4 linked regions of the Homo sapiens genome follow. The protein of the gene in region 1 purifies or fractionates together with the protein of each later gene. This does not show direct contact. Each region holds a gene or a part of one and is shown on either strand. Other genes may lie near its edges.

Region 1 (7,957 bases):
AGGAAAGAGCAATATGCAGTGTTCATCGTTCTTTTGATGACAATTTACTTTTACTTTTGTGGTTGGGCCATATCCAAGGCTCTTTGACAGAAAGCCCTCTTTGAGATCGAATTCCTCTGTGAGAATTCTGCTGCCTTTACAGGTATAATCATAAAAATATACATTAATATACATAACCCTCTGCAAACTATAAAAACTTTCATACATGTGTATATTCTTTAATAGATATAGAAACACATTTATTTCATATCTCATAAAAGATATTTACAATCAAAATAAATGAAACCATATATAGTTTAATGTTTCATTTTTTATAGATATCCCTCTATCACAGGTGATATAAAATCATATATAGGTTTTTATATCTTTAAAGGCCTCTAGGTGACCCTGTGAGCCACAATAAACTCAGCGTGGGTTCAGGAAGTGGCAGATCCTCAACTCGGCCGAAGGCTGTGGGGTGTAGGCAACACATGGGTGGTGCTTGGTACTGTAATTAATGGAGGATAACGAGGAGAAAAGTGCTTTGATAAGTCCAACCTCTTAGAGTCCTGCAACTTGCATCTCCTCGCCTGGTCTTGCCATGAGCTGAAAGTCATGCCTAATTTTGAAAGGCCTACAACTGTAGTCTTCCTGCTTTTTAGAAAGAGCATTATTTCACTTTCCTATGAGATGGCTGAACGGTCACTCTTTCACCAACCATCTGCCAATGACAGATATAACTGTGTTACAAAGTCTACTGAATCTTGTAAGAAACCAGAACAATACATAAAAATGTGTACTCCACCCCTAATAAAATAATATAATGAGATGAGACACCAGGTGTTTCATCTGGATTTAGCAACTATGCGTTTGCCAAGAATCTTATTCTGGTATTTTTCAAGGATTTTTCAGTCACAAGCAACCGAATCCCTATTTAAACTGGCTACTCTAACAATATTACTCAATAATATTTTGGAAGTATATGCTCCAGCAAAGCAAAAGAAGCAGTACAAATATCAGACAAGGGAATTACTTGCAGATGGTATTGTATATTGTACATCTAATGCATACTACAAAATAATAAGAAAAGTTAGTGATGTGGCTGGATACAAGATACATATGCAAAAACCAAAATTTTAATTACCAGTAATCAGTTAAATGTAGAAATGGAAACATTGCCCTGTACAAAATAGTTTCTAAAGTAATAAAATGCCAAGGAATAAATGTTAAAAACAAACATAAAATGCTTATATAGTGAAAATTTTTATTTATGTATATAAAACAAGATCTGAATAAATAGTGAGACATATATGTTCCTGAACAGGAAGACTTAATAGCAAAAAGATGCCAGTCTTCTCAATTCAGGAAAACCCTGTAACCCTACGTGTAGGACTCTAGTCTACTAAGATAAAAGCAAGAATATAGAAATATATTCACGCAAGGAAAGTATTGAAGAGTGTTTACACAGCCTTATTCACAAAAGGAAAGAGTGGAAAATGGCTATATATATATCAATATTAATTGGTTAAAAAACTACATTGTATCCAAAGTAAAGAATTTTATGCAATTATTAAAAGAACTTGTCAAATCTGTCTGTATTGCTCTATAAAGGTACCCATAATTTATTGGCAAGTGAAAAATGCAAGATAAAGAAGAATATGTTCAGCCCAATACTAGATTTTATTTTTACTAAATAGGTATGGGAACTTACATGAGATATTGCATATGCCTAAAATACTTTTTTTCAATGAAAAGAATGTACACAAAACTTAAGAGCATTTCAACTACGGGGTCACATAGAATTAACAAAAAACGGAAGTTTCATTTCTTGCTGTGGTTTTTGGTACTTTTCTAAACATCGTATTTTAAAATGTAGCCTGAATATGATCTATAATTTTTAAATTATTACATATACTTTCAAGAAGGGCAGTTTTATAAAATTTGATAATTGATGAGTACATGAATTCGCACAAAATAATTTGTTAAACTGGAAAGAAATTTGAAATGCAACAAACGAAAATGTCAAATCACAGTTCAGTAAGGAATCCTTTTTTAATTTCCAAAGCCAGATTATTCTTAATGTGCTAAAGGAGAGGTGACTTACCATAGGCAATGGCTTTCCCTGATGACAGTTGATACCACCAATGAAGATCATGTTGGGCATCACGGGTTTGGGATAGTCCAAAACAAAGTCCGTTCGCAACAACCAAATTGATGTGTGACTGTAGAGATCATATGCCGTGACAGGGGTTTGGAGAATTTCAGAGGCTATTTCTAGGGCATTTCTAAAAAGATACTGGCAAAATAAATGGTCCTCCAAGTGCACGATGTGGTTCCATACTCTCTCCTTGAAAGTCATGGCATCTGAGAACCCTAAGAGATCATTGGGGACATAGGAAAGAGGAGCAGGGCACTGTGCACCTTCTTCAAGATGGTGGCAAAATATTCCCCTGGTGAAGACCACAGAGGGGAGGGAGAAATATTTAGCAACAATTAAGCCACAGGTATCAAAAGGATCCAGAAACACTGCATCAAAAGAACTCTCCTTTAAGTATTCTACTAATTTTCGGTCATTAAACAAACTCCTGCAATGCGAAAAAAATAAGTCAAGAAAACCACTGGATGAACTCATTAATAGAGAAAATATACTTTGTGCCTGTGCTTTCCATTGAGCATGGGCGAAAACCATGAATTCCCGGTTCTGATCTTCCAGAGTGTACGAGGTTGAGTAAGTCTTCACTGTGCAATTCAGTGATCTTTCCAGTTGCCAACTCACCTCTGGCATGACTACAACCACCTCATGCCCCCTGAGGATAAGTTTCTCCACCACCGACTGCATGGTGAACCAGTGACTCCCATCCATGGGCACTACCAGCAGCTTCCCTGCCTCGGCAAAGCCACAGGTCAGCAGTAGACACACACATAAAGGAACGGGGCTGGTCCACCCTGCGCGAGCCATGAGAGAACTGCAGCCCGAGCCAGCAGCTGGGATTCTAAGCTGCTATGATACAGTAGGCGGAAGAAGTACAGGCACAAAACCTGACCCCAATAGAGGGCGTGTATTTATCCTTTCATAAAAAAAAAAAAATCACACTCACTGCCAATGATTTACTCATAAGAACGATAACACACGAGTATCATTTGCTGAGATACCTACTTGTATGATTTCCAGACAAGAGTAGATTATGGTCTTCGCCTTGGAGGGAGAGCACGCTGCAAGTGAGTTTAGAAACAGAATTATTCAGCAATGCTTTTGGACCTTGAAGATTCGGAAAGATAAAGTGAAAGTAAATTTGAATAATGCTAATATTTTTGGAATTTATCCCAAAGCAAAATTTAGATTTTGACTTTAGCCAACCAAATACTCTCTGTCCAGAAAGAAATTGGCATCTCATGTTCCAGGGAAAGACAGCAAGGCTCTTAGCACTGACCTCCCAACTGGCAAGAAACTGGGGCTCACCTGCATCTCTGCAATGCATAATCATTGCTGGTTGTCTTCTTCCATATCCAAACCCTGAGAGGCCTCTGAAATGCCAAAATGAGATTGACAACCCTGCCTCCATGGACCATACCAGGGACTTGATGGAAAGTGACCATCACCTATTTTAATGACTTTCCTCAGATACGTTGCATGCAGTGGGGAGTTGCTGGCCCAGTCCTTGTGCGAACACTCTGCTGGGCTGCCTCTCTGTGACTGCTCTACTTCTATATTCTAAACACACCATCACTCCAGTGACCTCTTTCAGGAAAATATGTACTTGTCTCCCTCAGTCTGCTGAGGACTCCTGGAAGTCAGAGGTGATGCCATCTCTGTGTTTTTACCCTTCTTTCACAGTAGCCATGCTTTGCCTTTGACGTAGTTTGTATGTTTGTCCCCTCCATATATCATGGTCAAATATAATCCCCAGTGTTGGAGATGAAGCATGGTGGGAGGTGTTTGGGTCATGGGCATGGATCCCTCATGAATGGCTTGGCACTGCCCTCCCAATTGTGAGTGATTTCTCATGAGATTTGATTGTTTAAAAGTATACGACAGTACATGTATCCCAGATCTCTTAAAGTATAATTTTTTAAAAAATGCCAAAAACCCTCTTCAGGATATTATTCAGGAGAACTTCCCCAGCCTAGCAAGACAGGCCAACATTCAAATTCAGGAAACACAGAGAACACCATAAAGATACTCCTCGAGAAAAGCAACTCCAAGACACATAATCATCAGATTCACCAACGTTGAAATGAAGGAAAAATGTTAAGGGCAGCCAGAGAGAAAGGTCCTGTTACACACGAAAAGAAGTTCATCAGACTAACAGCAGACCTCTCTTTAGAGACCCAACAAACCAGAAGACAGTGGGGACCAAAACTCAACATTCCTAAAGGAAAGAATTTTCAATCCAGAATTTCATATCCAGCCAAACTAAGCTTCATAAGTGAAAGAGAAATAAAATCCTTTACAGACAAGCAAATGCTGAGAGATTTTGTCACCACCAGGCCTGCCTTACAAGAGCTCCTGAAGGAAGCACTAAATATGGAAAGAAAAAACCGGTACCAGCCACTGCACAAACATACCCAATTGTCAGGACAATTGACACTATAAAGAAACTGCATCAACTAGTAGGCAAAATAAACAGCTAGCATCATAATGACAGGATCAAGTTCACACATAACAATATTAATCTTAAATGTAAATGGGCTAAATGCCCCAATTAAAAGACACAGACTGGCAAATTGGATAAACAGTCAAGACCCATCAGTGTGCTGCATTCAGAAGACCCATTTCACGTGTAAAGACATATAGGCTCAAAATAAAGGGATAGAGGAATATTTACCAAGCATATGGAAAGCAAAAAAAATCAGGGGTTGCAATCTAGTCTCTGATAAAAACAGACTTTAAATCAACAGAGATCAAAAAAGACAAAGAAGGGCATTATATAATGGTAAAGGGATCAATGTAACAAGAAGAGCTAACCATCCTAAATATATATGCGCCCAATACAGGAGCACCCATAAAGCAAGTTCTTAGAGACCTACAAAGAGACTTAGGCTCCCATACAATAATAGTGGGAGACTTTAACACTCCATTGTCAATATTAGACAGATCAACGAGACAGAAAATTCACAAGGAAATTCAGGACTTGAACTCAGTTCTGGACCAAGCAAACCTAATACACATGTATAGAACTCTCCAACCCAAATCAACAGAATATATATTCTTCTCAGCACCACATTGCACTTATTCTAAAATTGACCACATAATTGGAAGCAAAACACTCCTCAGAAAATGCAAAAGAACAGAAATCATAACAAACAGTCTCTTAGATCACAGTGCAATCAAATTAGAACTCGGGATTAAGAAACTCACTCAAAACTGCACAACTACATGGAAACTGAACAACCTGCTCATGCATTACTACTGGGTAAATAATGAAATTAAGGCAGAAATAAATAAGTTCTTTGAAACCAATGAGAACAAAGACACAACCTACCAGAATCTCTGGGACACAGCTAAATCTATGTTCAGAGGGAAATTTATAGCACTAAATGCCCACAGGAGAAAGCAGGAAAGATCTAAAATCAAAACCATAACATCACAATTAAAAGAACTAGAGAAGCAAGAGCAAACAAATTCAAAAGCTAGCAGAAGACAAGAAAAAACTAAGATCAGAGCAGAACTGAAGGAGATAGAGACACAAAAAACCCTTCAAAAAATCAATGAATCCAGGAGCTGGTTTTTTGAAAAGATTAACAAAATAGATAGACCACTAGCCAGACTAATAAAGAAGAAAAGAGAGAAGAATCAATAGACACAATAAAAAATGATAAAGGGGAGATAACCACTGAGCCCACAGAAATACAAACTACCATCAGAGAATACTATCAACACCTCTACACAAATAAACTAGACATTCTAGGAGAAATGGATAAATTCCTGGACACGTATATCCTCCCAAGACTAAACCAGGAAGAAGCAGAATTCCTGAATAGACCAATAACAGGTTTTGAAATTGAGGCAGTAATTAATAGCCTACCCACCAAAAACACCCAGGACCAGATGAGTTCACAGCCGAACTCTACCAGAGGTACAAAGAGGGCCTGGTATCATTCCTTCTGAAACTATTCCAAACAATAGAAAAAGAGGGACTCCTCCATAACTCATTTTATGAGGCCAGCATCATCCTGATACCAGGATGTGGCAGAGACACAACAACCAAAAAAATTTCAGGCCAATATCTCTGATGAACATCGATGGCAAATATCCTCAATAAAGTACTGGCAAACTGAGTCCAGTAGTACATCAAAAAGCTTATCCACCATGATCAAGTCGGCTTCATCCCTGGGATGCAAGGCTGGTCCAACATACACAAATCAATAAACATAATCCATCACATAAACAGAACCAATGACAAAAACCACATGATTACATCAATAAAATTCAACAGCACTTCATGCCAAAAATTCTTGATGAACTAGTTATTGATGGAACGTATCTCAAAATAATAAAAGTTATTTATGACAAACCGACAGCCAATATCATACTGAATGGGCAAAAGCTGGAAGCATTCCCTTTGAAAACTGGCACAAGATAAGGATGCCCTCTCTCACCACTCCTATTCAACATAGTATTGGAAGTTCTGGCCAGGGCAATCAAGCAAGAGAAAGAAATACAGGGTATTCAAATAGGAAGAGAGAAAGTCAAATTGTCTCTGTTTGCAGATGACATGATTGTATATTTAGAAAACCCCATCATCTCAGTCCAAAAACTCCTTAAGCTGATAAGCAACTTCAGAAAAGTCTCAGGTTACAAAATCAATATGCAAAAATCACAAGCATTCCTATACACCAATAATGGAAAAACAGAGAGCCAAATTGTAAACTCCCATTCACAATTGCTACAAAAAGAATAAAATACCTAGGAATACAACTTACAAGGGATGGGAAAGACCTCTTCAAGGAGAACTACAAACCACTGCTCAAGTAAATAAGAGAGGACACAAACAAATGGAAAATCATTCCATGCTCATGGATAGGAAGAATCAATATTGTGAAAATGGCCGTACTGCTGAAGGTAATTTATAGATTGAATGCTATCCACATCAAGCTACCATTGACTTTCTTCACAGAATAGGAAAAAACTACTTTAAAGTTCATACGGAGCTAAAAAATAGCCTGTATATCCAAGACAATCCTAAGCAAAAAGAACAAAGCTGGAGGCATCATGCTACCTGACTTCAAATTATACTACAAGGCTACAGTAACAAAAACAGCATGGTACTTGTACCCAAACAGATATATAGACCAATGGAACTGAACAGAGGCCTCAGAAATTATGCCACACATCTACAACCATCTGACCTTTGACAAACCTGACAAAAACAAGAAATGGGGCAAGGATTTCCTATGTAATAAATGGTGTTGGGAAAACTGGCTAGCCATATGTAGAAAACTGAATCTGGACCCCTTCCTTACACCTTATACAAAAATTAACTCAAGATGGATTAAAGACTTAAACATAAGACCTAAAACCATGAAAACTCTAGAAAAAAACCTAGGCAATACCATTCAGGAAATAGGCATGGGCAAAGACTTCATAACTAAAACACCAAAAGCAATGACAACCAAAAGCCAAAATTGAGAAATGGGATCTAATTAAACTAAACAGCTTCTGCACAGCAAAAGAAACTATCATCAGACTGAACAGGCAACTTACAGAATGGGAGAAAAATTTTGCAATCTATCCATCTGACAAAGGGCTAATATCCTGAATCTACAAGGAACTTAAACCAATTTACAAGAAAAAAAAACCCCATCAAAAAGCGGTCGAAGGATATGAACAGACACTTCACAAAAGAAGACATTTATACAACCAACAAGCATATCAAAAAAAGCCGATCATCACTGGTCATTAGAGAAATGCAAATCAAAACCACAATGAGATACCATCTCATGCCAGTTAGAATGGCAATCATTAAAACTCAGGAAA
Region 2 (7,900 bases), on another chromosome or scaffold:
AGCTCACTGCAACCTCTGCCTCCCTGGTTAGAGCGATTCTTCTGCCCCTCAGCCTCCCGAGTAGCTGGGATTATAATTGCCTGCCACCACGCCCGGCTGATTTTTGTATATTTAGTAGACACAGAGTTACACCATATTGGCCAGGCTTATCTTGAACTCCTGACCTTCTGATCCACCTGCCTCGGCATCCCAAAGTGCTGGCATTACAGGCGTGAGCCACCATGCCTGGCCCTATTTTTATTTTTTTGTAATCTTAGTAGAGACAGGGTTTCACCATTTTACTCAGGCAGGTCTTGAACTCCTCACCTCAAATGATCTGCTCCCCCTCAATCTTCTAAATTGCTGGGATTACAGGCATGAGCCACCGCACCTAGCCTAGGGTATATATTTAAACATAGAATTGCTAAAATAACTAGATATGGCCAAGTTTTTCCAAAATAGTTGTACCAGTAAACATTTGCAACAGCATTTTTGTCATTTTTATTTGTCCACATCTCACTAATCCTATGTATTTAAGAATAGTTAGTATCATTTACAATAACAAAGACATGGAACCAACACAAATGCCCATCAATGACAGACTAGATAAAGAAAATGTGGAGCTCTCAGGCTCCGCCTAATTTATTGGTTTATAAGCTCTTTGTTCCTAAGGCAGATGAGAGCAGGAGGAAGGGATGAGGAAAAGGATTAATCAGTGAAAGAGAACTCATGAGTCATTCAATAAGATGTAGAGCAGTAGCGGTTTCTGGGAATTTCTTTGAGCAAAGGCATGTGTCTAAACTACGTAAGATCTTTAACTTATAGGGACTGAAATGGGCGGGAGCGGGTTTCAGGAGGAGCCAAGACGTTTGATTATACTCCCCTGCTTCAAGGGACTGTTATCTCCCTGAGCAACCTGTGGAATACCGCTGAGCTGTTATGCTCTCGGGGCATAAAGACATGAAGGCATAAGGAGACTTTTCTCCTCAGAGGCTGCCCATGGCTACGCATGGGTGTCTCACACAGGGGAGACCAACTCAACTGGCACCCCAGAAACTCTCTTTCCCACAAGAAGTACATGGTATACTTGCATAGCCAAAGAAATTAAAATAGGCCATTGAAGACAGAGAAAAACAATGGCTAGAAAAGGCAGTAGGAATAAAAGAGAAGATCATGCTTCCTGGCTTCATGGCATGAGAATGGGGGAGTGAGTAGACATCCATGAGAAAAGATCAAGGAGCATGCAGCCATCGGGGAAAATCCATAGTGCAGATAAAGCAAGGAGGAAGAAGAAGGACAGTTCTAGTAAAAGGGAGAACATCAATATAGGATGTTTCTTAGCAATAGAAAAAGAAGGCCAAGAGGAATTAGGGAGAGAGTTATAAGAGATCAGCAAGGGGACAGGGTTAGATTTGGTTTGGTTTGAAAGCATACAGTAAATATGATGTCTGTCCCTGGCAGTGTTGGCAGAGTAGGAAGGAGGAAGGGAGGCAAGAGATAATATCATTTTCTCTGTGCTCCAACTGTACTTACATATGAGACTATTTCCCTCTCTGCTTTTCAAACCTTACTGGAGTTGTTTTCCCTCATGAAAACCAAGAAAGGAAAGCTAGTTAGTCTTGTTCTGAGGTTGTTCAATGTATACATATCTATATCTGTAGACAGAATCCTTGGGAATACAGTAATTGACATATATTCTGTTATTTGATGCTTGAAAAATCTCCTCCACTAACCAGTTTCCCTATAGATTGCCACAAGCACATAATAAGAAACAATAAATAAAATGTTCTCTTGACTTTGTTACTTAACAATGCTGAGAAAACTTTACAGCCTTCATAAGGAAGTGAGGTCCAGGAAAATCTAGGAGATATTTCTTAACCAATCTATAAAGGCATTAGTAATGACAGGATATTTCCTGAAAGTGTAATTTCCCATTGAGGATTTGTTTTTAATTTCTGGATTCCTGGAGCCAATGAAGTTGGTGTATGTTTATGAAATATCAAGAGACATAAGTTGGCAAGTGTTCATATGCAAAAACTTCTTGGAATTTCTGAGTTCTCTGTGGCAATATATGACATCAGGATATGTCCAGTCTCACACACCAGGATATGTCCTTTCTAGCCTGTCTATCACATGCTAGGAGAACTATTTAGGAACAGAAAAAAATGCCTGAAATGATTTCTCATTTGAACTCATCCAAGCTTTCTCTAAATTTAAGCAAACTCCTGGTCATTTTCAGTTAGTACCTTTCCTTAAGTTCAACCTTCAGGGCAAACCTCCGTGCCTCAGGACGTTTAGCCATAGTCTGAAATTCTCTTCCATAGATTGGTCCCCTGTAACCCCGGTTTGTCTCAGCTTGTTATCCTGTTTTTTTCTTCCCTCCATTCCCAGGATGAGCTTGTTGCTTCTGTCCTATGAGACATTAGATTCCTTTTCTTTGGTACCCGAGTAAATCCATCCTACTCCAATAGAGGAAGGTCCATTTTTGTCTTATAGCGCTGGATGCAGACTCAGCTGAGAAGACCATTATTCATTTTTGGAATTCTTTATCTCAGATATTTCCTCTTCTTTCTTTTTCTTCTATCTTTGGATTTTTAGTCCATCAACGCCCCATTAGTCTATTCCCCGACTTCAATCAGGGAACTTATACCTCTTAAACTCATTCAGAGACTCAAAACATATATATTGATACAGGAGACCTAAGAAGAGCATGTCTTGGGGGTTGAGGAAACAGGCAGGTGAGAAATTTCCAGATTGGAAACACAGCTTCCTTTCTCCCATCCAGCCCCTACTTTCAGCCTATGTGTTTCTGGCACCTTGTTGTAGATAAATCTCCCTTGACTTTGTGATGTGCTGAGAAAACAAACTCACGGCTGGTGTTAAAAAGGGCCCATGACAATACCAAGTGTTGGGGAGAATGTGGAGAAATCAGAACTCTATTCACGGTCGGTTGGAATGCACACTTGTGCAGAATTCTATGGAGAAGAGTCTGGCATTTCCTCAAAATGTTAACCTGGATTTACCATATGACCCAGCGATTTCATTCATAGGTTTATACTCAAAAGAAATGAAGAAATATGCCATGCAAAAAAATGTACATGAAAGGTCACAACATCATTATTCATAATAGTAAAAGGATGGAAACAACACAAATGTCCATCAACTTATGATTAAAGAAAATCTGGTCTATTCATAGAATGGAATATTATTCGACCACAAAAAGGAATGATGTACTGATCCATGCAATGATGTGGACAAACCATGAAAATAACACTAGATTAAAGAAGCCAGTCACAAAAGGACTTACTGTATGATTCCATTTACCTGAAATGTTTGGAATAGGCAAATCCATAGAAACAGGAGGTAGATTCCTGGTTTCCAGGGTCTCCAGGAAGGGAAGAATGAAGTACAAGATTTCTTTTGGAGGTAGTGAAATTGTTGTGGAATGAGATCATGATGATGATAGCACAACTTTGTGAATATAATAAAATCATTGAATTGTACAGTTGAATTTATGGTATATAAATTATATGTTAATAAAAAGGGGGTCCACAAAACAAACAGCCCCCCACTCTGGTTGTCAGGGAGATATTGGATTAAATGGCCTTGGACAACAACCCCTCTCCCTGGCCACAGACATTCTTCAGATTACAAGATATTCCAGGGGAAACACTGGAATGAGTCTGAAGCCAGGTGCTAAACAGAAGGACCATTGAGAAATGTTGTGATCCTGACAGGTCAAGCAATTTATTTTTCGGCTTCATTTTTAAATGTAAAATTAGAAAGCTGCCATTTAAAATGGCCCGTCTGTTTCAATTGCTCTTCTCAGTGTCAGCCTGTTAACTCAATGTGTTAGTCTGTTTTCATGCTGCTGATAAAAACATACCTGAGACTGGCAAGAAAAAGAGGTTTAATTGGGCTTAGAGTTCCACGTGATTGGGGAGGCCTCAGAATCACAGTAGGAGGCAAAAGTTATTCTTACATGGTGGCTGCAAGAGAAGATGAGGAAGAAGCAAAAGAAGAAACCCCTGATAAACCCATCGGATCTCCTGAGGCTTATTAACTATCATGAGAATAGCACAAGAAAGACCGGCCCCCATGATTCAATTACCTCTACCTGGGTCCCTCCAATAACATGTGGAAATTCTGGTAGATACAATTCAAGTTGAGATTTGGGTGGGAACACAGCCAAACCATATCACTCAGCAAGGCAGATAACTTTCTCACTGAGCCTATGCAACAGAAAACCATCTGGGATGGTTGTAAGGGGCACAGGAAGTGACTGGTAGGATCACTGCCAAAGCTGAGCACTCAGGAGAAGGCAATAGAATCCTATTCTCCATAGTATGCTATAAGATACTGAAGTACACTTCTTCACTATCTCTTTGGACTTAGAATTAGCACTACATTCCTTGTTATACAGAAAAATTACTAAGGAAATTCATAGGATGACAAAAACTTTCAGAACTGAAAAACAGGAAATGTAAGCTTTTTAGTTCTTTGGTATTCGAAGTATGCCTAAAAGACAATGCAAAATCCAAGAAAAGAATGGTGGGGTTTTTGTTTGTTTGTTTTTGTTTTTGTTTTACAGCTGGAGTAGAATACAAAGGGATGGAGTTGAAACAAATGAGAGGAAATTGGAATTCTAAACTTATTCTCATTGGCATTAGAAAGGCACCTACATGTATTTCACATGAGCCGGTGACTGCTGACTTGCATTCTTATTTTTTCCCTATAGATTAAAAAGGAGGTACAATGGTAGAACTGTAATCCTGTCCTTTGTCATAAATTTTCATATTCATAAAGGTGAGTGTTAGCCCGCTTGTGAAATCTGAAGTTGAGTAACTTCAAATACTAACCACAGAGGGAAAGGCAGCAAGAGGAGAGGCATAAATTTAGGATCTCACCCTTCATTCCACAGACACACACAGCCTCTCTGCCCACCTCTGCTTCCTCTAGGAACACAGGTAAGAGCTTCAAGCCTCTCCAGCTTAATAACATGAATTATTTTTGAGAATAATAATGATACTGTGTTCTATATCATGCATCTCCTGCATTCTGTCTGATTATATTTTACTTATTCTGCCAGAGCAAAATTAAAATACCTATTTCATCTGATTTGTCCTTTATCTAAATTGCTTAGTTCCAAGTAAACCAAGGCACTTTTAGGAACACAGAGGGAGAGTGCCTTGCAGCCAGAGAGTCTTGAAGGAGATGTCAGGGACGCATCTTAACAGCTGGTTGGATGTGATCCACAGAGGTCTCCTGTTAGCATTCATTGTAAAGCCATCCTACCTAGCTCTAGTGTAACCAGCAATGAAAGAAAGATAAAGAGGGTCGATTACTTATTTACAATAGTCTTTAAAAACGTAGTTTTGTAAGCCTTCTAATTAGGACATTAATATATTTAATATATGCACATTGTAGAAAGATTGAAGCGTTAAAAATAAGAGAAAAACTTTAAATGTCAAAATCTCACAACCCAGATATATCATTTCTTTAAGAAAATTGTACTACAAAATACCATTCCATTTATTAAAGTCATTCTGACAGGAATCTGATGCTTTTCCAGGAGTTCCAGATCACATCGAGTTCACCATGAATTCACTCAGTGAAGCCAACACCAAGTTCATGTTCGATCTGTTCCAACAGTTCAGAAAATCAAAAGAGAACAACATCTTCTATTCCCCTATCAGCATCACATCAGCATTAGGGATGGTCCTCTTAGGAGCCAAAGACAACACTGCACAACAAATTAGCAAGGTAGCTATCAGCATCATTACGTTGTCCTGTTGCAGTTTTTCTCTGGTTCCGTCGGCTAGCACGCAGATGGTAATAGATGTGGTGGTCTGATGGGTAGCACAGGGGGCTGTGCAGGAATTCCCATAACTGTGAGACCACTGACTTAAACAGATCTTTTGAGTAAAGTTTTCTTGTCCCGCTTCATGTCTCTTCCAGGTTCTTCACTTTGATCAAGTCACAGAGAACACCACAGAAAAAGCTGCAACATATCATGTGAGTCACAGAGCACTATGGTTCAGCTTTAGATCCCTGAACAGGTCATAGTTTAAACCTGGAACTTCACAAAAACTAAGAAAAGGCCAGTTTTAGGGAAAATCTTGGACACAAAGATTGAGACATACAGAGTGGGTTGGCATTTCATGGCACATAATTATTATTCCTCATTTCTGCGTTACTAAAAGACAGTCAGCACTGTACCTCAGAGCATAGGTCTGGATCAGGATAGGCTGGGTTCAGACTCCAGCTTTGCTCTTCACAAATGATGAATAAGAGCAGGACACAACTGCTCGGAGTCCCAGTGACCTCATCCCAGAAAACTAAGGGTAAGAAAAAATCTGACTCAATACATGCAAATACATGCAAATGTTTACAACAGTGCCTTGCCCATAAAAGTCATAATAAATGTTATTATTATTATAAAGTAGCTATAATTATACTAATCATAATAATGTGAAAATAATTTAATTTTCATTGAGTCATTAATGAGATTCAGAGGAATAAGCACAAGTCCAAGTATATTTTGGAAAATGATTGCTATGGAATATATTGGTTTAGAGCCTTAATAGTGCAAAATGCTTTGCTGGAAGGTAGAAAGTTCTAGATTTAAACAGGCTTAGGTTCAAAACTTGGCACTTCTAATTTATGTCTCTATAAACAGGGTTTTTTTCCCCATTCTCTGAGCTTTCTTGTGTTCATCTGAATTGAACTAAAGACTTAGAGTTACCCATGTAAAGTCCTTAGCCATGGACCTGGCATACACTCTTCTTACGTGCAGAGAATGACCATCATGAGGAAAGAGCCACAGATCAGTCAATGTGTCCTACAAGATAATAGCACCAACAGGTATAACAGGGCTTCCTGGCATAATCTATTTAAAATATCCAACCTTCAACATACTCGTATCCTTGATGACTGTTAGAAGTGAAATATGGTCCTTGCCCATAAGGAGCTGAGAGTTTAACTGGGAAGCTAAACCTAACCCTTTAAACCAACAAGGAGAAAATCTACTGGTAGACAGCGCTGCATCTTTAGTTCAGAAGAGAAAAGATTGCAGTACGTTAGAGCAAGAAGAATTTTCTGGAAGAAGTCAAATATAAGGTGGATTTTGAAGGGTATTTGAGGTGAAATACACCAATTATCAGGGAATAACATCAAAGGTCCTCAATGAGACTACCAGCATTTAGGGACTGATCTAACAGACTTAGCATGGGTTTAGTATTTACATTGATACAGCAATTGAATGATCTCCCTTTTTGATGTTTGAAGGTTGATAGGTCAGGAAATGTTCATCACCAGTTTCAAAAGCTTCTGACTGAATTCAACAAATCCACTGATGCATATGAGCTGAAGATCGCCAACAAGCTCTTCGGAGAAAAGACGTATCAATTTTTACAGGTAATTTCACCTGGCCTACCCACATTTCATTTGCATCCTGATGTCTGTGTCTCTGAGTGGCCAAATGGAAGAAAGCAAGGCAGATGAGCCTGGCCGACTCAGGTGGAGAGCATTTACTCAGAGTGCATTAGCTCCATTTCCACAACTCTCCCCCACTGGAGTGTCCCAGACCCCAACGATACATCACTGAAGTGTGGATTTAGGGATAATCTTGTGATAAAAGAGGAGGTTGTGTAATAGAGTGAGTAAGAGTAATAAGTAATAAGATACCATCGATAAACTGGCACTGACTCAGTCACATACGATACATCTTGGTGGGAAATGTATGACTAATGGGATATTATTGGAATGGGCAGGCTTGGGTGAGTTCCTGAGAATAGTTGAGGAAGTACCAGGAAATATTGAATGCACAGGATGAAAGACAAAAACAAAGATCAGAAACATCATGGTTAAAATTACTGGAGAGAAGTCTGAGAAGCAATGAATCTCCTTCAGGGAAGCCTGC
Region 3 (7,340 bases), on another chromosome or scaffold:
CCAACGTGGAGAAACCTCATCTCCACTTAAAATAAAAAATTAGCCAGGCATGGTGGCACATGCCTCTACTCCCAGCTGCTCGGGAGGCTGAGGCGGGAGAATCACTTGAATCCAGGAGACGGAGGTTGTGGTGAGCCAAGATTGTGCCATTGCACTCCAGCCTGGGCAACAAGAGCAAAACTCTGTCTCAAAAAAAAAAAAAAAAAAAAAGCCAATTGGGATGGTATGTGTTTAGGACTTAGCACACACAGTGCCAGGCATATGCTTAAGTTTTCAGGAAACAATAGCTATGATTGTTGGTATTATTTTTACTGATAAAAGGAAGGCAAAGGGTCAGGTGCCATGGCTCATGCCTGTAATCCCAGCACTTTGGGAGGCCGAGGCAGCAGGACTGCTTAAGCCCAGAAGTTTGAGACTAGATTGGGCAACACAGTGAGACCCTACCACTAAAAAAAAAAAAAAAAAAAAAAAGGAAAGCAAAAAGCTGGGGCTCAAAGCTCTCTGCATTAGGCACCGTACTCATCTGCCCTTCTGGAAGACTCCCATACCCCTGTCCCCTCAAGGGAACCCCCTCTGCTGTGAGAAGAAGGAATAGAAAAGGAGACTGCCCTCCCCGCTCTGTGTGATGTATCCCCTTCTTCAGGACCCCCCACTCCCCTCACAGGGTCCGGCTATCTCATTCAGCCTCGTGGATTCAGACTCTCTGTGCACCTCCATATCCCAGCCCAGATTGGACCCCTTCTCTCTGCTCCCCAGTTATTAACCGAAGTGGGGGAGATAGGAGACAGCACCCCTCTGAAAGGAAGACGTGCAGAGCAGGGGGCCTCTCTGGATGGGCTCCAGGTCTAAGCTCCACACACCCACCTCACCTGGCCTGATCTGCCGCCCTGTCCTGGAGTAGAGCCAGGGATGCACTAGGCGGGGGTGAAAGGGCCCTCTGCCAGGTAGCAGGATTTCCCTGCCCCTGATCTGGCCAACTCCCTGGACCTCCTCCAGACCTGGGTTCCTAGAGAAACAAATCCTCTTTCCCCTCAGTGCCAAAGCATACCTACCCTACTGCAAACAGAAGAGAGAGGGAGAGAGGAAGCCTTGCCCCTGGGGAGCCCAGGACCCCCATTGTTGGCTGCTGAACTCTTGTGTCTAGGAAGAAATGACAGGTCCCCAAGTCTTATTGAGATGGACCCTTGACTAGAGCTAAGAGGGGTGTGCCAGGACCGAAGTTCCTGCAGAGGCAAGGCTGGGTTCAGAGGAGACATCCTTTCAGCGAGCCCCTGGTGCCTGTGGAGCTGAGGGCCCAGCTTAGCCGGCCTTAGCTGGCTCAGGACTGTGTTTGTCTAATGGATCTGTTTTTAATCTGCCCCCTGCAGGGCCTGAGGAGGGCACGTGGCTCAGAGAGACCCTGCAGGGAGGACAAACAGACTGAAGACAGACAGCAGGATTGGGGCCTTGAATCTTACTCTTCAGCTGGGGCCTGGGGGTGTACCAGACCACCACCTCATCCACTGAGGACAGGGGCCAGAATCCAGAGAAGATGAGGAGGGAGTGGCATCTAGGCTTTCCAAAGAGAAAATTTCTTTTTGTCTTTAAGTTTAGCAAGGACAGAGCAAGAAAGACTGATATGACTCCAAGAAGTATTGTGGTTAGATCGCAGGAAGAACTAACGGCAAGGACTGATGGAGATCCCTGCTCTCTCTGCAGCATTCCAGACCTGTCTTAGATCCAGACTCACTCCTATAGTCCAGGGAGAGGGGTGCCTTCCCTCCCTCCCCTCTCGCCCAACCCAGCCGAACTACCGTCTCTCTGTTGAGTGCAGGAATTGAAGGCAGCAGGCCTGCCCTTACGCTCCCAGTGGCTGGGGTCCTTAACTAACGTCCATCTCTCCCCCAGAGTCCTCTCCCAGTCACCAGGTCCTGGCACTCTCCCCTGCCCCAGATGTCTAGCCCAGTTGGCCCAGAGGGCACACAGAAGGTGGGCTGGAAAAGTGGGAAAGGCAGTCTGGATTGACTTAGTTTTCCCCACCTTTGACCAACACACCCAATTGGGCTGCAGCCGATCTATGGTCGGGGGAGGTAGGTGGGAACCTAGATTTTTGGAAATGTGGGATTGGGGTTTCACACGAAACCATTTGTTGAAATCCAAGAAAGTGATAATTATCCCTAGCGATTTTAGAACTCTGGAGCTGCTCGCTGTATGAAAATACTTGTCTCACAGATGGGGGGTGGGGAGAGCAGAGTGGAAAGTGCAGAGGGGGAGGAAAGTGGGGCTCAGGGGGCGCTGGGGCAGCAGATCACCTCGCAGGCAGAGCTGGGCGCCGAGGGGTAATGAGCCTGCCCTGGGGATTGGGTTACCGAGGGGGGCACCGGGAAGGAGATTGGAATGTCTCCGAGCGGCTGGGCAGGGTAGGGAACCGGGCTCCCAGTCTGGATGCAGGGTTCGTGGCTCCACCAGCCCGCAGCTTCTGAACTGCAGAGAGCCAGGTGCCTCGGCCCGCCGAGTCCGGCCGCTGAGGCCAGCCTCCCCTTCCCCCAGAGGCCAACCTCGCGCTTCTGGTTTCTACGTGATTCACAGGCCGTGAGTCACCGCAGTGTTGGCACCGGTGGGCCCCCGCAGGAGAAAGCGGGATTTAGGCGTCGTGCCCAGAGCCCCGGGACCCGGACGCCTGGCACGTTTTTCGGGGATGCAGGCACCCAGTGTCTCACGCCCTGATTGTGGTCCCGCTGTCTTTCTCATCCCCAACTTCGAGGACTCCAGAGCCCCCCCTTGCCCCACCTGGGCCCTCGAACATTTCCTTACCCAGCACTTTGAGCAATTCCTCGAAGTTTTCCGATCGGATGATTTTCCAGTTGCCAGAGAAGTTGGGCATGGTGGCGGCGCGGGAGGCGGTCCCCGTAGACTCCTAGGCTGGAGCACTGGACACTGTCTTTTAGTCAAAAGAGACGTCGCCGTCGCCGGGTCGTCAGGTTCTGGAACCAAGACAAGTCCAGGGACAACCCCAAAGCTGGCCTGGGCTCCCGCGCGGACAGCTTTTATACCCTGTACGGAACCGCCCCTGCCCAGGATTGAAGTGGCCCCGCCTCCCGCTCCGCCCCCCCCCACCTGGGGGGCCCTGCGCCCCCGCCACCAACCTCTGGATCTAGCCCGCGTGTGGGTCCAGGCTTCTCTGGGGACCGAGATAGCCTTCTCCTGCGCTAGTAAGTGGATGGGGAAGCGGACGCAAAGCCAGCACTTGAATCGCGCTCTCCGCAGAGGCGGGGGGAGCTAGCTGCGGGCGCAGATGCTCAGGGCTCGTGTATGGCTGTCCCCCACCCGAGTTCCTCACGTCTCGCCTGTTCCCCACCCATCCCCAACCTGACTCGGTGCATTCAACTCCTTGGTGCCGGACACCTGGCGACCCCACCCGCAGGCGGACCCCAGATCTTGAGCCGTAGCTGGCCCTAGCTCCATTGAACCCTGAACTGGATCCAGTGGGACCACTCCGTACTCAGAGAGGGGCTTGGGAGCTGCGGGGTTCCGGGGGTTAGGGATCTAAGTGAGGCAACGGCGCCCCCTGCTGGAACAACTCGGAGAGGCTGGGCGGGGGCGGCACGGTCCCCCCACCCCTCCACCCTGCTTCGGGCTCACGTAATGCCTGGGGACTCTGGAAGTAGTCGCCAGGCGACTCGCTCCCCTTAATGCGCTGGGCGGACATTGAAGGGTTAAGCAGGAGCCCAGGGCGCGAGGCTGGGAGGGCAGAGGTCACAGCCAATCACTTGACGCAAGGTCTTTATTAAAACGCTTTCTCTGTCGCTTCACTCCCGAGACCCCGAGGGGGTCTCAGTAGGGGGAAGGGAGGGAGGCGGGGACAGAGGCGCGGAGCCCTGGCGAGCTGCGCCACCACCTAGATAGGCGGGAGGATGGGTGCCGGGGGAGAAGGCGGAGCAGGGTCTCAGGTGTCACCATCCTGAGCTGTAAAACGGGCGGAAGGAGCGACCTCCCCTCCCTTGGAGAGCGGCTTTGAAACGGGAGATCAAAGAGGGTGGGAGGAGGGCACGGCTTCCTGCAGAGACCCGAGTGGGAGTGGGCGAGACCCCAGTGGAGATGGCAGGGAGACGGAGAAACAGAAACGGAGGTCAGGCGGGGAGCCTCGGGGACAGGCCTGGGACCCGAGGCCGGAAACCGCAGAGGAGCGAAGCCTGGCGGGATGCAGTGATTGGAGCCAAAGGAACCGTCCCGGCCTGTCCAACGCGGGGGGGCCTTCGGCCCGGTGGCCCTGAGCGAACCGATGCACGTGGCCCCGCCGCATCCCATCCCCCACCCTCCCCAGACTCTCCCTCCCAGCTCCTTCTGAGGCGGAAAGAAAAACCCTACATCTGGTCCCAGCCCTGGGTCCCTGCCCTGGCCCCTCCTCGCCAGCGTGGCCAAGGGTGGAGCAGGCAGTCGCTCTCAGATCTCTGAGCCCTTATGTTTAGAACCTAGGGGCGATCTAGGGAGTTGGGAGCTTTGGTGGGAGCTGGGGAAGAGTCTGGAGGAAGATGACCAAAGGAGAGGGGCCAGAGTGACCTCAGCATTAAGAACTGAAGGCTGGAGAATGTACTGGGGGGTCGGGCCTCCGGGTTGCAGAGAGGGAAATCTGCAGAAATGGGTGGGTGAGAAAATAAAGCAGCTGGGCTGACTGGGCAGCAGGAGGGATGGAGATTCCACTGCATAGGACTTCTCTATGGGGCCCCGCCCGCAATAGCCAACAAACTGAGATTTGAATACTTCAGCCTGGGTTTAGGGGTCCAGGTTTTGTGTGGGAGAGCTTACTTGGGGGTGTTTGGGAGGCCTGGGCTTCTGCAAGGAAGAGGGCAGCAGGTCAAGGAGCTCTCTGAGGAAGGACAGACAAAAGCAGAGATGGTGGAAGGAAGCGGGGTGGGGCGGGGTGGGGGGTTCCCTGGGAAGTGCTTAGGGCCTGGGGTTGCAGGCACAGCCCCAGCTCCTCCCCCATCCTCCCTGCTCAGCAATGCTGTAGGTAAAGGAGGGGGATTAGGCTCTGACAGTGAAATCAGGCTCCTGGCCAAAGGGATGAGGAGAGGCTAGAGGAGGGAACATGGTGGAAACCAGATTCCTGCTGCCCCTCCTTCCCTTCACTGCCCCCTGCCTCCCCCACCCAGGTCATTTCGTCCATCTCCATGCCACCAGCCCTCTTGAGCCCCCAGCTGGAAGCGCCCAGCCTCCTGCTCAATAAGCATCCCTCCTCCTGCACGACAAAAGGATCAGTGCACTCTCCCCCCTAGCCTTGTGAGTGACTAAAGATGTTAAAACCTCACCCAAAAGATGGTCACCAGGATGCAGGGACAGTCATAGGAGGGGGTGATTGGCCCCTCGATGCTAGAGCAGGGGAGCACAGGCTGGATGGCTTGGCTGAGGCTGCTGGGGAGGCTGGAGCCAGGCAGTGGGGCTCCCTGGGGTGGGGGCAGGGAGACCTGGGCCCACTCCCCTCTCCTCACTTCCCCACTCCCTCCACCAGCCAACTGGCCATGATTTCCAAAGAGACAGAAGTAAGACAAAGGGAAGTCGGGCTGGGAGAGGAATTCTTTCCAGATGTGAGCATTTGCGGTTTGGCAGCTCTGGGCCTGAGCTCCAGCTCCAGCCCCAGCACCCTAACCCTGGCTGAGGGAGGTGGGTAGGGGGTCTAAGCAGGGTGCTGAATAGCTGAGGCCGAGGTCTCAGCCTCTAGCAGCCCTGTTACCCCAGGGAGCAGCAGGCACGGAGGGTTCTTAGGGAAGATGCTAGGGAAGGGGACTCGGGGAGGTGGAGGGGTAGGAGATGAGAGAGTGGAGGGGCCTGGGGAAGGGGACTAACCAAGGAGGATGGAGATGCCTAGAGGCAAGGAGCAGGGGCTAGGACCCTGGAACCAGGCAATGGGGAGGAGCTGCAGCCTTCATCAGCCACTCAGTCACAAACAACTGGCTTTAATTTCCCGCTGGGATCAATAAGGAGAAGGAATTTCCCAGTGCCTCTGGCCTTTTAATTATGACCTAATCTGCTACAGATCTGCCCAGGGTGACCCTTTGCAGGAGCTTTGGTCATAACCCTCTTGGGGCCCCCCCAGGAATCTGGAGACTCAGTGAGGGGAGGGTGCAAAGTTGATGAGAAAAGCTGGGGGGGCAGAGGTGGGATAGGTAGGGGTGGAGTGAGGAGGAAACAAGCTCGAGAGACTTAGGAGAGCAACATTCTGGGACTTTGTTCCATGGTGGTGTGGCTAAAAGGAAGGTGGCTGGTCTTACACCTGAAGGAATAGAGATGGGCAGGAGAGGGCTCCTGGATGGTGAAGAGTGTGAGTGGGTGTAGATGTGTATATAACTGAGGCGTCTAGGACTTGGGGAGAGGAGAACCCCCTCCCCTTTCCATTACTTCTTGAGGCTAGCAGGGAGAAGGAGTGACCACCCAGCCCAGCCGCTGGAGAGGGAAAGGTTGACTGGGGATGGGAAGTGTGGGAGAGTGATTAAGCCCCCACCCTCACCCCTAACCGGGACCATGGAGATTCTCTGGCCAAATTCAGCATTTGGAGAAGAACCTCACCCTGGGCAGTGTTATTGTATCTGCTGGGTCAGAGAGTTTGTTGGCTGGAACGCATGTAGAAATTAAACCCAGGTGGGGCTAGACACCTGGATCTCTGCTACTCCGCATAGGGGCAGCAATGAATTCAGGACTTCTACGGAATGCAGGGAAGTCTGAGAGTAGAAGAGAGGGGCTGGGAGCAGCTGGGGCAAGAGAGTTCTGTCTCCTGGCCACCCTGAGCCTTCAGGATTCCACTTAGCACAGAGCACAGACTCAGGCAGGTTGCCCCCCAGTCTGGCCTGATCCTTGGTACAGAGAAGAGTGCTGCTTTCTTTTCTCTCTGGGTTCAGGGGCCCAGCCCTTTTCAAGTCTGAGAAGGCCAGGCTCTGATTTGCCCCAAATGAAATTGTCCTCACAGCAGGATAAATAGGAGTTAGGCCTGAAAAAAGTTCCCAGCAAACTGAAGTGCAAGCAGGGAGAAGGGTCAGAAATCTAGAAAGGAGGCAACTCATTTCCCAGAAACATTTGCATGCAGGAGAGAGATCGTGAAAACTAGGGATGATTAGGGTAGAGAATCCTGAGTGACCTGGGTAAAGGGGCAGCTGGACCCAAAGGCAGGGGATGACAGTAACCTCCAGGGCTAGCCCTGAGGCCTAGCAAAGAGAGGCAGATGTGGCCCAGTAGGGTCAGGACCACAGACTGGGAGGAGGGGGCTGACCAGGATTACAGTCAGATAAGGAGAGGGTCTGCGCAGCATCCAGGTGGCCAGGCGGTGCCTCTGACTGTGACAAGAGGCATTATAGGCAGACCAGGGAGGA
Region 4 (7,316 bases), on another chromosome or scaffold:
CTGCTGGAGGCCATAGGGGGAACGTTGCTGGAGGGACATTACTCCTGGGTGACCCACTGGATGGGGGTGGGGGAAATTCTCCAACAAAGTTAACCTGGAATTGGTAGTTTTGACAATGTAGGTCACCAAAGAGAAGAAGAAATAAGGCAAGTGTCTGGTGGGAGGAGACACTTATTGTTCCTGGGGTCTCTGGAGGCCCCTTGGTGGGGCTGGATCACTGGCTTCCCCCAGAACAGGGCGCCGCTCCATGGCTCTGCTTGTGGTAGTCTGCGGCTATGTCTCCCAGCAAGGACAGAAACTCAGAAAAATCAATCTTCTTATCCTCATTCTTGTCCTTTTTCTCAAAGACAGTGGCGAGGTAATGTATGCCCTTTTTGTCCTGTGAAGAGAAAAACATACAAAATAGAAAAATTCAATCACAAACAAGTTTTGGGCTGGGAGGGGAGAGGAGGAGGCAGAGATACAGACAAGTACCTAGATCTGCACAGGCATGGTCGTGGGGCTGAGAGCACAGGGTGAGTGGGTGAAGTTGGGGTGAGGACGTGAGTGTTATCCCTGGAGTTCTCTAAGGAGACTTTTTGTCTCACACCTCAGGATGGGAGGCAGGTCCTGTCCCGAGGCACTCTGTTAAGTGACCTTGGGGAGAGCAGTCCCCTGCCCCAGCCTCAATCTTGCCTGTTCCCAGCATTTAAGGGCACTGCCTACCTTAGTTCTACCCCAGGGCCTCAAAATTGGCCCTCATGCTTTGTTCTCTTCTTTCTCTGACCTCCTCTCCTTTCTTCTCCTTTTCCACCAAACTCATCTTCTGGGTTCCCTACTCTTGGTCATCTAGACCCTTTGGTACCTAGTAGCCCACAGGTTTTTTCAGATTTGCCAATGAGTTTTCTTTATTGCAAAGAGGGCTATTGATTTCTACTAGCAATGGAACTTCTAGTGCTTTCCCAGTAATCTCAGGGATGTTGATGTGGGGCCTTTGGGAAGCAGGACCTGAGCATGTGAGTTTCAGTCTCACAGAGAGAGGGTCAGTGAGCGCTGGGAGGGGACTGTGCACTGTCCTCAAGCTGCACACTTTGCTGACCATCTAATAACCTCCTTTATATCTGTATAACTCTTTCCCATTTTCATACTTTTTCGCCTACCATCCTTAGATTCACATATGATCCAAGCAATAAAGCCCTATTTGCAAATGGGAAACTTTTTAATCAGAGGATGAGGGTGACCTGTCCAAGGCCACATAGCAAAATGTATCCTCAGCCATGCCAGGGTCCAACCAACATTGAGAAGCTAGACCCCAACTCACACAGGCACTGAGGAAATTGGGGAAGTTCTCCTTCATCATCGTCAGCAGGCTTGGCTTCTCAATCTTGCCATCACGTCCGGTGTATTTGTGAAACATGTCGATCATGCCTATTATGGACCTCTCAGCTTGAGTGTTGCTCATCTTTGCTTTCAAAAAGCCTTCAGGAAATAAAGACAATCATTTCTTACCTTAGTTTGAATTAAGGTCTCTATGTGGGGGTGTTAGAAGGAGGGCTGAGGACAGAGTAAAAACAGCCCTAAGATGGAGCAGAAGGAACTTGATTTTTTTAAATGTGATGGGATAAGTTGTTCAAAAATGAGAGGGTAGGACCAAGTCTGAGACCCGGCCCATCCTGGCCAGGGCCAAGAAGAGATGCAGGTGGATGGCAGAAGTCCAGCTGTGGACAGTGCTTCAGAGAAGGAGAAGCAGGGAGAGTCGGAGGCCAGCAACACATAGAAGAACTAAGCTGGGACCCCCCAGCCTCAACCAGCACATGGCGGACCCCACTCTTGAAACAGCACCAAATCCATCTCCTCCAGCTTCACAGTCGGGGTGAGAGTCACGGGGGCAGGACAATGGCCTTGGTGATCTGGTGTCTGACCCTCCTCGGCTGCTTCAGGAACCAGACACCGTGGGCCCCACCTTGACTCAAGTGCAAGCCCTGCATGACACAGTGCGTGCAGGCTCCAGGTGCACATGTGAGCGTGGACATGAGTGTGAGCAGGAAACACAGCCCTCTCCCGAGGACAGGGGGCCCTTCCTACATTCCCTTGGGAATGAGAAACAAGAATTGCCTCTGTTACAAGGAACAGAAATAACTCCCTGGTTCTTAAGCTGCTGGATGGGGTGGGAGTGAGGTGGGAGTCGCTTCATGTCTGCTCTTGGGAAATATCTGCACCCTCTGAATCACCAAGGGTTGACCCTGTTTAAATAAAAATGTCTGACTTTCCAAAGCAGATCTTCCAGCCAGTAGCCAGCCTGGGCTGCCCTGCACCCCAAGCCTGAAAAATAAGACAGTGCAGCTCTCATTTCTACACTTTCCAAAGAACCAGAAAAGGACCTTGGCTAACGCATGTGGGCATCTGACAATAAACCCCCAACACCTCTCAACGCAGGAGAAAGCTCCGTGCCAGCAACTGACTAAGAGAAGCCACTCAAAGCTTTCTGAATCTGAGGCCAAGGCCAAGGCCAGAGGCCAAGCCCTGTGCCCAGAGATTGACTGAGAATTTACAGGTCCAAGGCCTGGGGGTTTGGAGAGCCTCCAAAGCATTCACAGGGGATCCTTATCCCTCCTCCCTCTGTGGGGGCAGAGCTGGGGAGGGGATTCAGCAACTGGGATCCCAAAAGGAGAATGAATCCAGGGAGGAAGAAGACAGGAAGGAAAGGGAGGGTCCTGTGCTCAGGTCCCACTGGGGACATTTCCACAGGAGTTGTCTCAGGAGATCCCAAAGGAGCAATGGACAGGTCTGGTTCAGCCACCTGGTTGTACAGACGTGGGCTTTTGGGGTCAAGTGAAGGTCACACAGCCCAGCTAATGGCAGAGCTGGCCTAGACCCAGGCTTCTGAGACTTTGTCCACAGCCCTTTCCCTTCCTACAGGCAGCATGGCAGGCTGGGCACTGGGCACTTCTAGAAAATGCAAAGAGGCAGGTGAGACTTACCAGAACTGGGAAGTGTCACGAGTAGAAGGATGAGTGAGATGTGTGTGTTTGGACAAAGAGCAGTCCTTTATAAGGCTCAGCCTGGCTCTTCCCACGGGTTGGGAGGCCTGGGGCCACCTCTGTCATCTGTTTCTTGGAGGCTTGTCCCATATCAGGTGTGTGGGACACACCCAGGAGGCTGTGCTCAGGATTTCTGGCCAGGGTCCCAGGTCACCAGGTCCCACCCCACCCCAGAGACCTCACCTGGGGCCTTCTCTGGCTCAATCTTGATTTGAGGGTAAGGCAGCGGTACATGTGTAGTAACAGGTCAGGAAATGGGAGAAAAGAGCACTGGGCCTCTGGACCCAAAGAGAATGGAGTTTCAGACTCCCAAAGGCAGCATGGTCTTGTTTATTCCCTCCCCCAGTACTTCCACACATTTGTTGTGACAGCCTGTTCTATGACCCCCACCGCTTACTGAGCGTTTTAATGTCTAGACATCAAGACACCTGCTGCTCTTGCATCCTCCTCAACCCTCCCCTCATAGTCTTAAGAAGCAGGTGCTGCAATCTCTATTTTAGGAAAGGAGAAGTTGAGATGTTCCCAAGTTTACTCAGCTAGTAAACACAACAAATCATCACACGAACAAAGAAAAGCCTGAATCAAATCCTTACTCTTATCCCCTGTGCTATAGGTCTTGGGTTGCATCAGGGTCTGCCCTATGGGAACTCAAAGTCCAGGGAGGGAAGCAGGATTACTTCATTGCTAACCATTGGTCAGCCCCTCACAGAAGCCCTGGATTTAGGTGGGGGGACTGGGGTCAGGGGCCTCACTATCTAGGTTGAGTGGTGGAGTGACCCCCGCCCCCCCCGCCCCATGGAATGAGCCTGGAGGTAGGGAGTGGGAAAAGTTCTTTCCTGCCCCATGGCACTAACTTCCCAGAAAGTCTTCAGTGTTTTTCCTCCTCCTATGCAAAACAGCCTGTGTAGGAGTTGGGAGTTGTGCCCTTGGCTATAATGTGCCCTAACCTGCTGTGGAAAGCCTGAACCAGGTAGGGGCAAGAGGGTTGGGAAGGCACAGGAGTCCCTGGGGCATGGTGAGGAAAAGGAGATGATGAATCACTGAAATGGACTTTTTCTGCTACCCCCTTACAATGTTCCTTGTAGGCCGCAAGAGGTCCTGGTTCATTTAGTGCCAGCCCTTTAAGCACTCTGGGGCTCCATAGAGCTGATGTGATGTCTCCCTAGGTGGGACCTATTTTCTCCACCCATCATCTTTCTTCAACTTCCTTCTCTGTCAGTTCTTATGTAACCAGGGGGACCTGTTTCTCCCTCTCCCAGTTTCCCATATGACGGCAATATTACTTTTAGCGGCAAAAGATACACACACACACACACACGCACACACACACAAACACACACACAAACGCACACATACACACACACACAGACGAATACTACTCAACCATAAAAAGAATGAAATGATGACTTTTGCAGCAACATGGATGGAACTGGAGGCTATTATCTTAAGTGAAATTACTCAGAAAAAGAAAGTCAAACACTGTGCACCCTCATGTGTAAGTGGGAGGTACATCATGCATACAGATGGAGGTAGAGAGAGAGTAGAATCATAGACACTGGAGACAGTGAAGAGCAGGAGGTCAGGTGGTGGGTGAAGGAGGAGACATTTCTTAGTGGGTACAATGCGTGTTATTTAGGATGGCTGCATTAAAAGCCCGGACTTCACCACTGTGCAATGTGTTCATATACATGTGTATGCAGGTTTTTGTGTGGACATAAGCTTTCAGTTCTTTTGGGTAAATCCCGAAGAGTGTGATTTCTGGATCCTATGGTAAGAGTATGTTTAGTTTTTTAAGAAAGCACCAAACTGTCTTCCCAAGTGGCTGTACTATTTTGTGTTCCTGCCATCAATGAATGAGAGTTCCTGTTGCTCCACATCCTTCTTTAGCATTTGGTGCTGTCAGTGTTCCAGATTTTGGGCATTCTCATAAGTGTGTACTGGTATCTCATTGTTGTTTTAATTTGCATTTCCTTGAGGACATATGATGTGGAGCATCAGCTGATATGCTTATTTGTCACCTTCTGTATCTTCTTTGATGAGATGTCTGTTAAGGTCTTTGGCCCATTTTCTAATTGTTTGGTTTGTGTTCTTATCTCTGAGTTTTAAGAGTTCTTTGTACGTTTTGGATAACATACAAAGTCTGATATGTCTTTTGTAAATATTTTCTCCCAGTCTGTGGCTTATCTTTTCATTCTCTTGACAATATCTTTCACAAAGCAGAAATGTTAAATTTTAAAGAAGTCCAGCTTATGAATTATTTCTTTCATGGATTGTGCCTTGGTGTTGCATCTAAAAAGTCATCACCAAAACCAAGATGATCAAATTTCCTCTTATGCTACCATCTAGGAGTTTTGTAATATTATGTTTTGCATGTAGGTCTATGATTCATTTTGAGTTACATATCATCACTGTTTATAAAAAAAAGGAACAGAAGAAATGCAATACAAAAGGAATCAGGGACAACAATATTAATACAAGACAACAAAGAATTCTAAGAAAAGGGATTAAATGAAAAAGAAGAATATTTCCTATTGATTAGTGTGCAAGTCACCAAGATGCAATAGTCTTATCTTTTTTTTCTTTCTTGTTTTTTCTTTTTTATGAGACACACTTTTGCTCTTGCAGCCCAGGTTAGAGTGCAGTGGTGTCATCTTGGCTCGCTGCAATCTCCTCCTCCTAGGTTCAAGCGATTCTCCTGCCTCGGCCTTCTGAGTAGCTGGGATTATAGGCGCCTGCCACTATATCCAGCTAATTTTTGTATTTTTAATAGAAATGGGGTTTCATCATGTTGGCCGGGCTGGTCTCGAACTCCTGACCTCAAGCGATCCACTCATCTCGGCCTCCCAAAGTGCTGGGATTACAGTTGTGAGCCACTGCACCTGGCAATAGTCTTATCCTTATATACACAAGAACATAATATTGAATTATACAAAGCAAACATTGAAATAAATTAATGAAAACTGACAAATTTATATCACTTGGCAGTTTCTGGCAGAGTCTGCCCAGGAACTCAACAGAGTCGTCAGATAACAAAACACCAGTAATGGTGCAGAGCAGGGCGGGCAGATGCTGCCACAGCCCAGAAGCAGCCCTGGACATAAGGGCCCCGTGGATGAAGACAGCTGTTTCTAGTAAACACTAATCTCCAGAATTGGTTGGCCAGCTGGATTTGGCTTTAAGACCATAATTTGCTGATTCCTGATACAAAATATTTGAAGGACACACTTAAATTTATTTATATACACGTGCATTCATAAATTTGTGCCTGACCATAGAGAATACATATAAATTTCTTTTTTTGTATTGAGGTTCTTTATTAAATTAATTATATAATCTGTATTAGATAATTAACGTTTTTACAAAAATTATTATTATACTTTCAGTTCTAGGGTACATGTGCACAGCGTGCAGTCTTGTTACATATGTATACATGTGCCATGTTGGTGTGCTGCACCCATTAACTCGTCATTTACATTAGGTATATCTCCTAATGCTATCTCTCCCCGCTGCCCCAACCTCACGACAGGCCCTGATGTGTGATGTTCCCCTTCTTGTGTCCAGGTGTTCTCATTGTTCAATTCCCACCTATGAGTGAGAACATGTGATGTTTGGTTTTCTATCCTTGCGATAGTCTGCTGAGAATGATGGTTTCCAGCTTCATCCGTGTCCCTACAAAGGACATGAACTCATCCTTTTTTATGGCTGCATAGTATTCCATGGTGTATATGTGCCACATTTTCTTAATCCAGTCTATCATTGATGGACATTTGGGTTGGTTCCAAGTCTTTGCTATTGTGAATAGTGCTGCAATAAACATACGTGTGCATGTGTCTTTATAGCAGCATGATTTATAATCCCTTGGGTATATACCCAGTAATATGATGGCTGGGTCATATAATGGTATTTCTAGTTCTAGATCCTTGAGGAATCGCCACACTGTCTTCCACAATGGTTGAACTAGTTTACAGTCCCACCAACAGTGTAAAACTGTTCCTATTTCTCCACATCCTCCCCAGCATCTGTTGTTTCCTGACTTTTTAATGATCGCCATTCTAACTGGTGTGAGATGGTATCTCATTGTAGTTTTGATTTGCATTTCTCTGATGGCCAGTGATGAGCATTTTTTCATGTGTCTTTTGGCTGCATAAATGTCATCTTTTGAGAAGTGTCTGTTCATATCCTTTGCCCACTTTTTGATGGGGTTGTTTGTTTTTTTCTTGTAAATTTGTTTGAGTTCATTGTAGATTCTGGATATTAGCCCTTCGTCAGATGAGTAGGTTGCAAAAATTTTCTCCC

What was found.
Region 2: the proteins of UGT1A10 (region 1) and SERPINB4 purify together in Homo sapiens (affinity purification with mass spectrometry; 3 studies listed by BioGRID and IntAct, with this or other methods). This does not show direct contact.
Region 3: the proteins of UGT1A10 (region 1) and CRABP2 purify together in Homo sapiens (affinity purification with mass spectrometry; 3 studies listed by BioGRID and IntAct, with this or other methods). This does not show direct contact.
Region 4: the proteins of UGT1A10 (region 1) and S100A7A purify together in Homo sapiens (affinity purification with mass spectrometry; 3 studies listed by BioGRID and IntAct, with this or other methods). This does not show direct contact.

What each region holds. Positions count from the first base shown.
Region 1 is NC_000002.12:233,631,504-233,639,460, reverse strand, and holds the start of UGT1A10 (UDP-glucuronosyltransferase 1A10 precursor), read right to left. Parts: upstream 3,014-7,957; 5' UTR 2,939-3,013; coding exon 2,084-2,938; intron 1-2,083.
Region 2 is NC_000018.10:63,641,255-63,649,154, reverse strand, and holds the start of SERPINB4 (serpin B4), read left to right. Parts: upstream 1-4,898; 5' UTR 4,899-4,946; intron 4,947-5,532; exon of another isoform or gene 5,533-5,551; 5' UTR 5,552-5,577; coding exon 5,578-5,742; intron 5,743-5,937; coding exon 5,938-5,994; intron 5,995-7,266; coding exon 7,267-7,395; intron 7,396-7,900. UniProt on the Homo sapiens protein: May act as a protease inhibitor to modulate the host immune response against tumor cells.
Region 3 is NC_000001.11:156,702,584-156,709,923, forward strand, and holds the start of CRABP2 (cellular retinoic acid-binding protein 2), read right to left. Parts: upstream 3,001-7,340; 5' UTR 2,864-3,000; coding exon 2,794-2,863; intron 1-2,793. UniProt on the Homo sapiens protein: Transports retinoic acid to the nucleus. Regulates the access of retinoic acid to the nuclear retinoic acid receptors.
Region 4 is NC_000001.11:153,412,208-153,419,523, reverse strand, and holds the start of S100A7A (protein S100-A7A), read right to left. Parts: upstream 3,005-7,316; 5' UTR 2,961-3,004; intron 1,459-2,960; 5' UTR 1,442-1,458; coding exon 1,301-1,441; intron 380-1,300; coding exon 215-379; 3' UTR 1-214.